Regions from separate parts of the Homo sapiens genome. Here region 1 is linked to region 2. The links come from fine-mapping of genetic effects on gene expression. Tissue or cell type: whole blood. Region 2 holds a variant in brackets; the other region holds the start of a gene. All regions are shown on one strand. Distances are from middle to middle.

Region 1 (8,109 bases), 270 kb before region 2:
TAGCTTCTGCTTGTGAATTTTCCAATAGGCCTTCACACTCGTCTCTTAATCTTTTGAGTTATGATTTTTCACCTCTAACTTTGGTTCTTCTTTTTTGGGGAGATTGGGTGATCAGTGTCTCCAGTCAGCCATCTTGAAGCTGCCCTAAAAGTTTTACATTTTAACTGAGTCCAACTTATGCTTTTGATGTGTTGATGTTTGTTGATTTTTATCACCAAACTGAAGATTACCTAAATTTTCCCTCATGTTATCTCCTAGAAGTTTTATTGTTTACATGTGAGTCAATGATTTATTTTGACTTAAAATTTGTGAACAGTGTGTGGTCTATGTCTATACTCATTTTTTTGCATGTGAATGTCTAGTTTTTCCAGCACCATTTGTCAAAAAGATTATCCTTTCTCCATTGGACTGACTTTGCTTCTTTGTCAAATATCAATTGACTGTATTTGTGTGGGTTTCTTTCTGGTCCCTCTATTTTGTTCCACTGATCAATTTGTTTATTCTTTTGCCAGTACCATACTGCCTTGATCACTTTGGTTTTATATTAAGTCTTAAAGTCAGGTAATATCAGTCATCTGAGTTTGTTTTTCTTCAGTATTGTGTTAGCTACTCTGGGTTTTTGCCTTTCCATATAAACTTTAAAAAAAGTTTGCTGATATCCACAAAGTAACTAGCTCAGGTTTTGACTTGGGTTGCACTTAACCTATAGATCAATTTGGGAAGACCTGAAATCTTAACAGTATTGAGTCTTCCTATCCATGAACATGGAATAGCTCTCCATTTATTTAGTTCTTTGATTTCTTTCACCAGAGTCTTGTAGTTTTCCTCATAAAGATCTTGTGCATATTTTGTTAGATTTATACCTAAATATTTCTTTTTAAGTTATCAATTTTAATGGCTGTAAAAGTGCTTAAAATGAAAAAATTCAAGATGCAATATTTACAACCATCAATCTTTTGTGGGCAGGCCACCTGTTATCTATTTGTGGCTTACCAAAGTGTTATAACCCATTGGTTAGGCATATTTTTTGGTAAAGAATATCAGTTACTATCACTGAGCGTGAGACACTAATTAATCTCACCCATTGCCACTTCTTTAGTAAGAACTGGACTTGCAGCCACTGCTATGGCTGACATTCTAATGCCTCAAGTGGAGCCACCTTTCCTGTACTCAAATGTCCTCTGTTTGTTGCCTGTCATCCCAGCTACTTGGGAGGCTCAAGCAGGAGGATTGACTGGGGCCAGAAGTTCGAGACCAGCCTGAGCAACATAGTGGGACCCAATCGGTAAAAAATAATAATAATAATAAAAAATAAAAAAATGTTTCTGGTTGTCTTTGGGGGACAGGTTCAGATTTGGGAATATTTGTAGGGGGATTTTAGCCTGGCCTTTGTTCACCTGGTGTAGAAATCTTGTTTGTCCTATAGATCAAATTGAGTCCTAGTTGGATGCTTGGCCACCAGCAAAATCCCTATGAGTCACACCATTCTGAAGTCTACTTGGGTACCACTGCTTATGATTGTACCAAGCCCTCCCTGGCACTGAGGGTTAAGTCATGCACCACTATTTGTCTTCTGCCAGCCCAGGCTCTCATCCTTCCCATTTAAGTCAGGGAGCTCCTTTTGACTGCAGTGTCTTTCACAACCATCTCTTGCTACAAAGAACAGCCACTTTGGTGCTTTTCAAAGATGGCAGTCCTTCCTTTGCCAATGATTCTTTGAAAATCTTGGTGGATGCCCCCTCAGGGGACACAGTTAAAGAGAGGTAAGCTGGCCACATGTGGAAATACACTGCAATATTTCCATCTCCTTGATTCTTTGGATCTTTTCCTGTACATGTACCAGGGAATTTCCTTTTTCTCATCTTCATTTAGCTGAGTCCAGAAGTCAGTTAGTCAATTTAGATAGTACATTGAAACCAGAGTCATTGGGAAGTGAATTCAAATGGACAGATTCAGGTTTATTCACACATATACTCTTCAATGTAAATTAGCAGAATCTTGCAATTCTTTCTCTTCTTGGGGTTGACTTTATAGTTGGTCTCCTAGGGTGTGACTGAATCTGGTTCAAGTATTAAGAGTGAGAGTAGTCAGAGATGGTGGGAGAGGGGTGGGAGGAGATCGGCTTCCCTTTCCAAGGTAACTGCCTTAAGTGAGTTCCGAAGAGGATCTTCAAACAAAGCAGGAACAGCCTCGTTACATAAGGAAGAGGGCATGCTTCTGCTGCCAAGGGAGTTTGGGGGCTTGAGTGACTAGGAATCATTCAAGTTTTCTTTTATAGTCCTATTCTTATTCCCAGATTCCCACTCTTTCCTGCTGATAATTATAAAATCTTGTGAGGCCGATAATTCAATTGACTTTGTAATTTGGCGATTTGTAGATGAAATTGTGAATTTGGTTTTTCAGTTTTGGCCTTGTGGCTCAATTAACAAGATATTCTTTGAGCTCTGTTGTTTGTAAAAATACAGTTGTTTAAAAGTCATAAGCTGATAATTTAGGACTTAGTGCATCACTACTTTTCTTTCAGTGGTCCAGTTTTAAACTCATCCCTTGAGTTCATTCTTTGAGTTCTTCCTAATCTTCATATTATTATTATTATTGTTGACAATGGCCAGTTGGTTTCCCAGAGCCTTGTCTTCATTGGGTAGTTCAATCCAGGTGACCATACTTGGTAATTTACCTAGCTGTCATGCCAAGTGCTTCCAGAGCCTGTATTTTCATACTAGTTGAATCTCAGCCTTTATTCCTAATCAGGCCAGACAACCAATCTCAGATTCTTCTCATTTCTTCAAAATTCTGTTTCTTACAGTCCCACATTGGGTTATCTTTATTCTGTCTTTTTCACTACTGTCCTTGTTGGTCTTATTTTGCTTCCTTGGAATTTGGGGTAACAATTTTTGGGTATTGATATGACTCTTTTGGAGCCTAACGGTCACTATAATAGGATGGACAAGTGTGTGTGTGGTCTTAAAAGAAAAGCATGGACTGTTTGGCTGGTGACTTTTCTTTGATCTCTGGGCTGTCTGCTCTTTTGGCTAGCAGAGATGATCCAGTTTTCAACTTGGGGCAGGTCCCATCCCTGCCACCTCATATGTGCATATGGGGATTTACAGATTACAGCTGTAAGATGTCCTCCACTGACCCGGTGTCATACCAGCTTCCCAGCCACCTGTGGGATGAACAGGTGTTCTCTCCTTTGAAATGAGAAAAGAAATGGAGAGACTTTTCAAAGATCCCCAGGATTAGCCAGTAGCTGGGCCAAGAATGAAATCCACATCTTCCCATACCCTCAATACTGACCTCTCCATCAGGATCTGCCCTAACATTTGAAGGGCCCAGCTCAAGAGCCTACATGAATGCCCCATACTATCATCTAAATATTCATAAGCAATAGTCAGCTATTGAGTGCTACATAAAACATTCTCTATCCTCCTATCTTGACAAATTGTTGCAATTTGGAATTTCCAGGAGCAGATACTGAGACTGAGTTTGTCCTGTGTGGTATTTATTAGTGATCAACAGGGAGAGGAGGCAGGAGCAGGCAGAGAGAGAAGTCCAAATGCAATGCGGACTCCCCCAAACCTTAGCCAACCCCACTAGGTGTCCTAGAGAATATATGGCCCACCAGACTGTCCAGGGCAGGTAAAATTTGTGTGCCACTCTTCCTCGACCCCCAGGACAGGGCATATCTTTGGATGAGGGGACTCTATGCAGGCACAAACCTTGAAAAAGCTGACAGCTGGTCAACACCTCCTCTTCTAACAAATGTTCCTTCCTAATGACCTGTTCTGCTCCGGCAAGAGCAACAGGGTGAGAGGACTTCCATCTCTCCCAGCTCCTGGACATTCTAGTGCTCACATTCAAGCTCCATACCCCTGACTCAACAGCTGCTCCTGGCCACTCTCGGGCCTACGGTACCTGACACAGTGGCTCTAGCCACCTTGGGGACAACAGAGAGGCAGGATACCTCCTACCTTCAACACCCTGGAGGCGCGTGGGGAATTCCAGAGTCCTCAATACCCAGAGATTGGACTAAAACGGGATGGGGCACATCCGCTTTGCCATTAGACCTCTTAATTCCTGAGCAACCGGGAACTGGAGGAGGTCTGTAAAGCAGGGGAGTAGGATAGGAACCTATCCCTCTTGCTCGGGTCAAAGGTATGCTATCAAAGATCACACTAAGATGTTGGGAGATTTAAAGGAGGATTTGCACATGGAAGGCTCTTTTTTGGAGAAAGAGACTGAGTCCTAGCTAGCATTAAATAAAACAATGGCTTAAACAATCTCCATGAGTACCAGAGATTTTTACTATTAGCGATATTCCTGGTGTAGCCGTGTCAGGGCTGTCACTCTCTCTGTCACTCGCCCTGGGCCCAGCAATCCTTTCCCGAGGCGGAATCCCCCTGGCGGTGTGGGTCAGGATCGCTCTCCGTCCCCTACCCGCGCCAGGTCCCTGGAGCTGAGCAGAGCAGGGCGCTGTCGAGCGCGTTGGGGAGCCGGGGCCGGGACGAGCACAACCGGGAGCCCGAGCGACAGCGGCCAGGGGAGGGAGGAGGCGGTGAGGCTGAGGAAGGCAGTCGGGCCCAGCTTGACGCAGCGGCGGCTGCGACTGAGCAGGCCACCACCAGGGCACCCGGGCCAGCCGCGCCAGCCATCCCTCCGCCTCCTCCTTCAGCTGCTCGGCGCGCGTGGGAGTGAGTGCGTCGCGAGCCCGCCGGGGGTCTCAGGCTCTGGGCGTCCTCGGCGAGCGAGCCCGGGCAGAGGGAGGCGCACGAGCGCGCGCGACAGAAGGAGGCGGGGAAAGGAGGGGGCGAGGCGGAGGCGAGCGAACAGAGGGAGGGACCCGCCCGCCGCGCCCCGGCCGCTGGGCATGTGTGTCCGCAGGCGCCCGACGCTGCCGATGTCCCGGGGCTGAGCCGCGCCCAGGTGTCCCGGACAGTGCGTGCGAGCGTGTGTGTCCGCGCAGGCGAGCACCGCGCCGGCCCTGAGCCTCCCGCTCGCTCCCCACGGCCGCGGTGCATGTTCGCCTCCTGCCACTGTGTGCCGAGAGGCAGGAGGACCATGAAAATGATCCACTTTCGGAGCTCCAGCGTCAAATCGCTCAGCCAGGAGATGAGATGCACCATCCGGCTGCTGGACGACTCGGAGATCTCCTGCCACATCCAGGTGCGCGTGGAACCGGGCGAGGGCGCGGGGCACACGCCGGGAGCAGGGCGGGGGGCCTTTGCGGTGGGCATGCGAGAACAAGGAACCCACTCCCGGAGGGGATTGGGGGACTGCTAGAAAGCCAGATTTCGATTCCTCAGGCCTCTGAGGGTGGGGGGCCTTATCCTGGCATGGAGGGGCATGGTGCCCTGCAAGCGCCAGGCACGCGTTATCCGCGCCCAGTCTCCTTCCCCTCGCGTGCACCCTGCGCGCGCGTCTCACTGCGCCCGGGCTAGGGGCGCGGGGCAGCTGCCTCCGGAGGGACTCTGGCCCCTCTGGGCCCTACTCCGCCAGGAGATGGGAGCTCCGAGGGCTGAGAGGGGCACCTGCATGTCGCCCACTGGTATTTCCTCCCTTCTTCCACGTGGAGAAGGCATGCATCAGCTGGGTTCACTCATTTCTGTCTCCCGCGCCCAGGCTCCGGAGACGCCCTCAGTCCCGGAACCTGCTTTCCGCTCCGTGTCGGTCCCCCTCACCCTCCGCCGGTGGTCTTTAGTTCTCCGCGTGGGGCGGTGGCGAAGTTTCCCCAGAGTGAGAGAGGCCGGGCTGCCCTGGGCGCCAGCCTTGAGGGATGGAGCGCGCGCTGCGCCGGACTGGAGCTACCTCGAAAGGAATGTGTGAAGTCTGAGTGTTTCGGAGAAAGGAAAAGGGATTGTGAGGCCAGCAAGTGGGGAGCCCTGCAGGAACCTGGGTCCTGGGTAAAAGAGCCCCGTGGAATCTTGGTGGACATTCACTGTCGCCCAAGTTGGAGGAGAAGGCGAGTTGTTTGGGAGAAGGCAGCTTTGCTGGCAGCCCTGTCCTCGGGTAGTAAGTGCCTCTGGGCTGTCAGGAGAGCTAGTGTGAGGTGCAAAGGTGTGTGTGTGCATGTGGTTGCGCGTGCGTGTGCATATTTGCTGTGGGTGAATATGTAGGCAGGTGGGAGCCCCTCTTCCAGGACCCCAAAGATGCCCCACTCGGTGCGCACACAATCAGGAAAGGTTGTGTCAGGGCTCAGCACAATTAACTTCTGACTTCTAAATCTATTTAACTGTTTATCTCTGGGATTTCCTTTCTCACCTACCCTAGTCGAGTCTTGAGGCTCTGGGACTGAGCTTTTTTTTTTTTTTTTTTTTTTTAGTGTAATACAGGGCACACCACCCATGTCAGTGGGAGGTGAGTGGGGCAGCATCTCCCAGAGTAGGAATCAGCCTCTAGGCTGTGCAAACCATGAAGGAATGAAAGGACTTTCCCTGTTTTATTTTTATTTAATTTTTGTTAGTGGGAGTGTGTGACATGTTGGGGGCAGTTGCAATTAATTTGTAACCTGACAGCCGGACAAGTGTCAAGGTAGGAATGTGATGCCCCATGATCTCCCAGGAAAGTAGGCTCCCATTGAATTTTCTGGGGGAGCTTGAATTTCATTCTGAGCTAAGCAGCACTGCTAAACTTAATAATAAAAGGATTAGCAGGATAGGCAGTGTTTCTACTGCCACAAGGGTTGCACAGAAGCATCTGGCATGTACTAATAGTCTTGTGATCCAGAGAGTGTGGACTGTGCACTTTGCTTTAAGTCCTAAAGTGGGTGTACAGGTCCTTTAACCCATAATGAATGTGTAGATGATGGAGGGGCCGTCAGGGAGAGAGGCTGTTGAGTTCTCCTCTGTCTCTCAGCCCTCTTCTGCCCTGTACCACTTGGTGTTGACATTTTTTTCCCCTCCCTCAGGATGAAGTCTTCCTTAGAATAATAAATATTCCCCAAAGGACATGTATTTGTTGTCTTGTGTTTTGAGAAACAATAAATTGTAGCCAGTCTAACAACAGTTTGAAAAACTCCAGTGCTTATGACCCAACTAGTGCCAAAGAGGTTAAAATGTTATGTTTCAAAATGTTGGCTTGGGCACTGATTTTTAAAAAATTATGATGTTTCATTTTGTGATTTGTCTTTTTCTGCCCTTTCTGCCCCCAAATTACAATTATTATTTAACCAATTAAAATAAATTAAAATATTTTATTTGGATAACTTTAGACCTCACACTTTCCTAGAGTACTCCAGACCAGGAATTGAAATTGCCCTTCCGGGTATCAGGTAACAAAGACTTCCCATTTGCTTAGAGTGAGAACAAAAGGATTAAAAAACAATGCGAAACAAAACCATTTGGAATTACTGGCACTTGTTCTGGGTGAATCCATCTGTGTTTGCTTCCTTCCTTCTATAGAACTACAAAGTTAAAGGATTGTATATATTGTCACAGAATGTCACCCTCTCTCCATAGCCCACATCTGCCTGTCTGCGTTAGGAGCTCTCATCCCTGGTGTCTGCCTGGCTCTGGAGCAGGGGTGTCCAATTTTCTGGCTTCCCTGGGCCACATTGGAAGAAGAAGAATTGTCTTGGGCCACACATAAAATACACTAACGCTAACGATAGCTGATGAGCTAAAAAAAAAAAAATCACAAAAAGTCTCATAATGTTTTAAGAAAGTTTATGAATTTCTGTTGGGCTGCATCCAAAGCTGTCCTGGGCCATGGGTTGGATGAGCTTGATCTAGAGGCTCTGTAGGAGGAGCAGGAGCTCTTGGACATGTGTTAGTTGTTCACTCCTGTTCACTACAGGAGTGCTGCCTATGGAGCCCCAAAATAAGTAGGGGAAACTCAAGCCACACATCCTTGGGAGCTCATTAGTCTGTGTTCTCTAGTAGGTAAGCATTCCAGATTCAAAGAAAAATGAGCCACTCAAACAGGTTTCTCTAGCAAGGTGCTGGAGAGTGGCCACACATGGTAGATGCAAGAGATGATAGAAACCTTCAGGACTATTGCTTGAGACAATGTGAATAGCTCTAGGTGCCATTTCTTGAGCATCTCTCATGAGCCAGCCTTTTCCACTCATTATGTCTGATCTCTACCACCAACCTTTGAGTAGGTATTATTCCC
Region 2 (8,109 bases):
GAGGAGAGAGAGGGAGACAGAGATGGAGGGAGAGGGGGAGGGGGAGGGAGAGGGAGAGCAGGAGCAGTGACTTAACAAGAGCAACTATCTTGAGTCACAATCATGCTTGTTGGCTTTCCTTACCTAAGTTAACCGACTGCTTTGAATGATGTGCTCTTTTCCGTTTATAAATAAGTTGGAGAGTCAGGAAAATACAAGGAAGTAAGTCATGATAAGGAGGTCTTAGAGCTACTGAGAACAGTGGTGTTGAAGAATGCCCAGCTGTGCTGCTTGAACTATACTTTGTCTGCAACTGTATTCTCCAGAGGATTTTTATTGACCTTTCCCCAGACTCTACAAGGTGATGCTGGGCCCCAGAGAGCAGTTATCTCAGCTTACAGGCAGGAAACATTCAGTCTGATATGGGAAATCATAAGAGGAACAGTGTCTAATATGCCAAAGCATCTTATGCATTTCCAGGGTTTTGTTCATGTAAGTTATCATAATTTGACACTCATGACCATTTCTTTGAATTGGATAGAACAGATACTGTTGTCTCACTTTCCAAACAAGGAAATTAAGTTATACAAATGGTTGATTACCTGGCCATATGGTCCTTTCTCTCAGTCTCTCAGTGATGTTGGGAACAGCTTCCCTTTCTTTTTACTGTATACCCAAGAATATACCCCTCCTATCATAAATATATTATTAAAATTATTGTTTATATGTTTTATTAATACAATCTTTAAAAAGTCCTCTGAAGTATATGTTAGTCCCAAGGACTCTTTTTAATGGATACTTAATGTCTAACCTGATTACAAAGAACATTTAATGAATGTAATAATAATTTATTATCTTTCCACTTGGAGCTAGCAGTTAGCTAAAATTTCAGTGAATCTCTCAAACTATTTTAACTAATGGCTGACTCCACTATACTTGTCAAGTCTGTTGGTTTCTAATGTAGATAAATTGCATGATATTGATGATGATATAATTATAGTTAGTATTTATTAAATGCCTATTCCATGTCAGGAACCCAGTCATGTAAACACCCAGTATCCTCACCATTTTGCAGATAGAAAATTGCATTCAGCAGGCTTCTGTAGGTTTCCCAAGGTAATAGGCATGGCCGGGTTAACTCCTCACAACCAGCAATACTGCTACTATTGGGGAGGAGTAACTCGTAATAGTATGTTAAGACATATGGTTGACAGAAGGAAGAGAATCCAGGCTATTTAAAATCCTCACAGTCTTCCTCTTGAGCAGTTAAAAAGAGACCAAAAAAAAAAAAAATGACCATGTATTGAAAAAAAATCGCTAACATTTATTGAGTAAATTGCCGTGCAAGGCACTGATCTGAGAATGCCATGTGTATTAACTTGATTAATCCTCACAACCACCCCTTGGAGGTACACACTGCTTTTACATCTGTAAAATGAAAGCTTTTGTTACAGATGTGGAAACTGAGGCTCAGAGATGATAAACGATGCAGCCAGGATTGGAACCCAAGGACTGCTCCAAAGTCTGTGCTTTAAATCTTGCCTTCTACAATTGCTTAATAAGTTCTGGTTCATAGGAGCCAGCTCTATGTTAGGCACTTGATATGTATCTCTCATTTCCTTGTCATAACAACCATGAGAGGAGTTGTTGTCTCCATTTTACAGTCAAGGCACCAGGGCTCCCAGATGTCCAGTAACTTCTAGCCACTCACAAAGTAGAGGCAACTTTGTTGCCTTTCCCCGGATCTGTGTCCGGTGGTTTGTGCAGGAGCAGCCATGGAATTCAGGCTCATGAACAGTTCTTATCACTGAATGCCATTCTTCTTCTTTGGTTTCAGGCTGACTTAGCAAGCAGTGTTTCTGACATCTCATTATGGAAAATCGATTCTCCTCTTCACACATCTTCTGCTTTCTTTGGCCTCTTGTCACTGCCCAGACATGCATTCCCAATTCTCAGACAAACAAATGAATTGAAACAGGAACAGTATTCAAGGGCATCCAAATGTTGTGCTACTGATACTGTTCAGTTGAGCACAGTGGCCTGAACCAGAACAATGCTCACTGTGCAGGATCCTGCAGAATCTTTGGCTTGGTTCCATATTCCCACCTCTCTTTTCTTGTTCCTCTTGAAAGGTAGACACCCCTGTGGGCAGAGTCAGACAAGGTAGAGAGAAATGGCTGAGGCAATATAGAATGCTTGTCTTGCTAGCTTATCTTTCTCCATGAAAGGAGAAGATCCATAAAAAGCAAGAGTAAAGGAATCTACTTACGATCTCTGAAAAGTAGCGTAAAGAGTGAGAGCAGGTTTAAGAGGGGAAAAAGTGAAAAACATGTGAAATGCTAAATATTATGACTGGCTATAGTTAAAATAATAATAATACTTTTGTTTGTTTGTTTATAGTAAAATAATAATAATACTTTTGTTTTTTGAGACAGAGTCTCACTCTGTCTCCCAGGCTAGAGTGCGGCGGTGAGATCTCGGCTTGCTGCAACCTCCGCCTCCCGGGTTTATGCAATTCTCCTGCCTCAGCCTCCCGAGTACCTGGGATTACAGGTGCCCGCCACCACGCCTGGCTAATTTTTTTGTATTTTTAATAGAGATGGGGTTTCACCATGTTGGCCAGGCTTGTTTTGAACTCCTGATCTCAAGTGATCTGCCGGCCTCGGCCTCCCAAAGATAATAATACTTTTAAAATGAAAGGTAGGAAGGAGGCATTTGAAACAATGGTGAGATGTTAAGCTTGAGAATTATGGAGAATAACTATCCTGGTAGAAAAAAACAGAAATAAAATATGGTGATAGTTTTGTTTCAGGTTTTTTACTTGTTTTCTCTTTTGTCTTTGGAAGGTCTGTTTGTTTCAAGTGAGCTGTCAGGTCATATGTTGTTTTAACATGATGATAAACATAAAGATTTATCTATATTCCCTTCAGACAGGCCAAAGGGAGATTTCCTCAGTATTGAGCCATGGCCTACTGCCATGCAAATGAGCCCCGGTTAATCTATGAAATTCATCGTGTGTTACTGCAAAGTAGTGATTTATTGTGAACAGTGATTTTCAGATTTGTTCTTCAGTGTCCTAAAGATTTTTAGTAGTTCTTCAAGAACCATTGTTGGTGACTAGTGAGGGAGGTGTAGTAGGTACTAGTCCTGGGCCCCACCTTTGCGTCAGTCTATCTGTTTTAAACCTGGGGATTCTGCTCAGAATTATATAATCAGGGGGAATTGCAAAGGGTTGAAGATTTTGAGAACTTTTAGGGATATTTTCCTTTCAAGCTTCAGGGTTGAAAATTAACTAACTCCTGTGAGAGTAGGAACTCCTCTGCCACACTGGAGGCTGCTCACCCAGGAGAGGGGAGTGGGGGGCCCATTGAGGTCCCTGGAAATGGCCTGCCCCACCTCAGCCACAGTGCATGGCTGGCAACACCCTTTTTCCCTTCTGGGATTTACTGTCTGGTCTTACATTTATCCTGTGTGCAGTTTTACATAGTCGATGCCACACCATTTATATAAAGATGCTTTTTTCAGTTAGTAGTATATTGCAAGCATTTTCTCACATCATTAAATTCTTCTAAACATGAATTTTAATGTCTGTGCAATATTTCATCACATGTATTTAACCATTTTCCCACTGGAAATATAGGTTGACTTAAAAAACATTTTTGGCTATAATAAATGATACTCTGATGAACATCTTTGTCTTAAGATTTTTGTCAGCATTTCTGATTATTTTCTCAGGGTTAATTCTTAAAAGTGGAATTTCTGGTTCAAAGAATACCACAGCTATAAAAATCCATGTATTTTGCTAATTTTCTTTCCAGAAATGCTAAATCAATTTTATATTGATGCATAACAACATGGAATTTCAATTCCTGCTCTGAATAAACCTTTGTTTCATAGAGGATTATTAGAAAATCATCTTTTGGTGACAGATATTTAAAGTAGAAGAATGTATGCAGGCGTGTTGAAATTGTGTGAGGAAAATTTTTTCTTCTCATCCTTTTCATGAAAAGTCAGAATGTAGTGGTTGCATGGCACCTGCATTTAGAACACTAACTTTAGTCAGCCGATATTAATTGGAAGCCTAGGTTCAAATCATGGCTTTGCCACTTACTAACTTCGTGATTGTGGTCAGGTCAGTTACTCTCTCTAAGTTGTCGTTTCCTTATCTGTAAAGTGAAGAAAAGATTAGCATTGTTATGAGATGGAGATAAGGCATGTGAGGAATCCAGCACTTTGAAAAGAGCTGAGATTACCATGACAGCAACCATATATAGCTACTGAACACTTGAAATGGAGCTGGTTCGAATTGAGATGTGCTATACATGTGCAGTGTGCAACACACACTAATTCCAAAGGCTTCGTCCCAAAAAAGAATGCAAACTCTTTATTAATAAAAGAGTTGATTAATTATTAATAAATTTTGATATCATTACCTGTTGAGATACTATTTGAATATCTCGATTTCAAATAAAACACATTATTAAAATTAATTGTAATACATTTATTTTGCTTTTTAAATGCTTTTTTTCCCTCTTTGAAGTGGCTTGTGTTATAATCTTACTGGACAGTACTGCTGTAGAATATAATAAAGGCTGGAGGAGCAATTTTTAGAAGAAAAAGTGGGTTATTTCTCCATTATGGAATTATCCAGTTGTCATCTTATCTTTTGGGGACATTTGATTCTTAGGAAATGATGAGGCATTTGGACAGGGTCCTCTGTTTTGGTCC[G/A]GAAGGTTTAGAAAGGCTAGAGTAGGGATGATGCATAATCTTTCATTGTTTGTTAGAGGGGTGAGTGGAGAGTTTAAAAATAGCGTCCCCTCCCTCCTCCCCTCCCAATGCTGATCCCTCATGAGTTATTTCTGTTGGCCGCATTAGGAACCTGACATTTGATTCATTCAGTGGGTCCTGCCTAGGTCCTTTAAAACAGAATGGACTGTTAGGGAAAGGCTGCCCTGGGCCATGCAGGCCGAGGAGACCAAGGGGATTGGAATAACCAGTATGGCAAAATGCTTGGTCAAGATCCAGACTCGACGAAGCCTCCAATTGCACATGGTGAACCACTGCAACAGTAATGTGTTTGTTCGTCTGCTGAGACTCGGCTCCAAGGTCACAGCTCGTAACACTGGTATGTGTGGTGCCCTGGGCTGTCATCCTGTTCCTGAAGTGTGCGGGCTTCCAGCTTCCTGCTCACTGCTGGTGGAGAGAGGCCCAGGGTGAATTTGGTGTCAGAGGTTTTTGATAAGGATGAAAAGAGAGAGAGGAAGGGAGAAAAGCAGAGACGAGTGGGAAGGAGGGTGAGCAAGCCAGTGCAAAGGGGAAACAGGAGGGTGTGTTCCAAATGATATAAAGTTGTCATAAATACAAATTACACCCTAGTCAGCAGTGAGTCAGGAGGGAGAGGGAGGCAGTGGTGGTGTGTACCTCCAGATTGTTCCATAACATGAGAAGATTAGGGAGAAGGCAGAATGGATGATCACAACACGCTCCCCCTCCTTTCATTGTTGAAAGGGTCAGAGCTCAGATCTGCTTGCTTGCTGGGGTGAGGCGGAGCACCACTTTTATCCTCAAGGCAGAGCTTTACTCAAAATATTGGCCAAAGAATTGGAACTGACCTTCTGCCAATTTCCTTTTCATTGTAAATATATTTTGTTATTTTATGGTCCTTGAGGGAAATAGGAATTGAAATAGGAACTTAAAAAGTTAGAGCTTACAGCAAGAAAGAAGCTGTGGCTATATGTATAAATGTGGTTTTTACCAATTGATTAACACAAAATACAACCTGGAAAATGTCTGTAATTGGCTATATCTCATGCACATGTGTGAAACTGACTTCTAAGTGAATTGAGACGAAATTGATTATATTTGTATAATGACATAATACATGATGTGTTCTTGTATAAAAGAGTTTTTAAAAGAACAAATATATAGATGCTTTCCGTTAATACTCCCAATAGTTGATCTATGAATACTGCCACATGGGATATAGGATTTTTTTTTTTTATAAATGGGATTGTTCAAGATATATTATTGCAGAATTAGTTTTCTTACTTTATCATATGACTTGAAGGACTTTCCATATCCATACATATTAATATACATCCTTTTTATAAATGGCTGGATAATATTAGGTAATATAAAGATATCATAACTCAGTTATTTAATTACCAAATTATTGTTGGAAATGGTTATGGCTCGTTTTTTGGCTGTAACAGATGGTACTGCAATGCATATGTATACAGAGGCATTTCTCTTTAATAGATGCTTCAAAGTATAATTGTTGGGTTGAAGGATATACGAATTGTAACTTTTAATGGAAATGGGCAAATTATCCTCTAAAAGCAAATTCTAACAAGGTGAGTATGAGCTTGACTATTCCCCCACATAATCACTCACCCTGATATGGCCAGTTTCTTAAAAGTTTTGCAAAATGGTTGAAAGGAAAATGAGATTTCATTGTTTTAATTTGCATATCCCTTTTTATCAGTGAAGATGAGGATCTTTTCAAATAATTGTGTATTTTCATTTCTTCTTTGCAGAACTGCCTATTTGTTTACTTAGTACATTTCTATTGTGTTTTTGTCCTTTCCTTATAGATTGTAGTATTTCTTTTATAATGTGAATATTAATCCTTTATATTTTACAAATGTTAATGTTTTCTCTCCTAATTGGTTCTTGGCTTTCAACTTTTATTTAATGTTAACTTTATGACACAGGCACTTTTTTTTTTTTTTTTTTTTTTTTAAGAGTCTCGCTCTGTTGCCCAGGCTGGAGTGCAGTGGCACCATCTCGGCTCACTGCAAGCTCCACCTCCCGGGTTCACACCATTCTCCTGCCTCAGCCTCCCGAGTAGCTGATATTACAGGCGCCTGCCACCACGCCCGGCTAATTTTTTGTATTTTTAGTAGAGACGGGGTTTCACCGTGTTAGCCAGGATGATCCCAATCTCCTGACCTCGTGATCCGCCCGTCTTGGCCTCCTATAGTACTGGGATTACAGGCATGAGCCACCGCACCTGGCCGACACGGGCACTTTTTATATGCACAGAGAACTTCTGTATGTGCAAACTATTTGCTTTCTGTATATTTTAGGTTTCTGTTTTTATGTTAGTTTTCCCCATGCCAAGATTATAAAAGTGTTTCCTGTTTTTATTCTTCATAATTAATGCATTTACTTGAACTCTATGAAATTGCTGATAATAACTGCTTATGACCTTCAAAATTGGCAATTTCACGTGGTATCTAATTTTTTTTTTAGTTTAACCCTTTATCTTCTTAGGAATTTTTACACGTGCATGACATGGTATAGGGATATACCTTCCCCCCTCCCCCCACAATTGGTTAGCAACTTTTTGCAAAACTTTTTCATAAACAAATTTTCCATTATATTAAAGGGTATATTTCTGAATTATATCTTTTATTATTCCTGCTCCATTACTATACAGTATAGTTTTAATATCAGGTAGGTCAGGTTTCCCCTGCATTGCTTTTTTTCAAAGGAAGTTATACTTTTAGAATGATTTTTAGGTTCACAGTAAAATTAAAAGGAAGGCATAGAAATTTTCCACATATGGGGAATTTCCCTCACACATGCTCAGCCTCCCCCATCATCAACATCCCACACAAGAGAAGTACATTTGTTACACTTGATGAGCCTGCATTGAGACATCATGACTATTCAAAGTTGATCGTTTGCGTTAGGGTTCACCTTGGTGGTGTACATTCTGTGGGTTTGGACAAATGTTTAATGGCATGTATCTACCCCTGTTGTATCATACATAATAGTTTGACTGCCCTAAAAGTTCTGTGTTCCACCTATTTCTCTCTCTCTTCCCCTAATTCCTGGCAACCACTGGTCTTTTTATGATATTCATAATTTTGCCTTTTTCAGAATGTCAATTAGTTGGAATCATACAATATGCAGTCTTTTCAGACTGGCTTCTTTCACTGAATAATATGCATATAAGCTTCCTCTATAGCTTTTCATGGCATTTCTTAGCACTGAATAATATTCCATTGTCTGGATGTGCTCACTGATTTATTTTCCAGAAGTTTTTGATTATTAATGTGTACATTTACCATTTGTCTTTTTTGAAAGTGTGTTGGATTTTCTATTGAAATTGCATCAAATTTT

Evidence for each region. PIP is the estimated chance that this variant, and not a neighbour inherited with it, causes the effect.
Region 1: it holds the start of FRMD3, and the variant in region 2 is fine-mapped to the expression of FRMD3 in whole blood (TOPMed, PIP 0.98).

Annotation. Positions count from the first base shown.
Region 1 is chr9:83,535,139-83,543,247 of GRCh38, reverse strand. FRMD3 (FERM domain containing 3) reads left to right here and starts at 4,847. Exons shown (of 14, transcript NM_174938.6): 1 at 4,847-5,163. The coding sequence starts at 5,017. RefSeq lists a silencer at 6,600-6,894.
Region 2 is chr9:83,264,007-83,272,115 of GRCh38, reverse strand. The region is part of intron 13 of FRMD3 (FERM domain containing 3); the gene reads left to right. It overlaps FRMD3-AS1 (FRMD3 antisense RNA 1), which reads right to left. Exons shown (of 3, transcript NR_184120.1): 3 at 1,283-2,121. Among named protein-coding and RNA genes, the nearest start is that of FRMD3-AS1, 49 kb to the right of the region's middle. The variant G/A (reference allele first, on the strand shown) is at 4,708.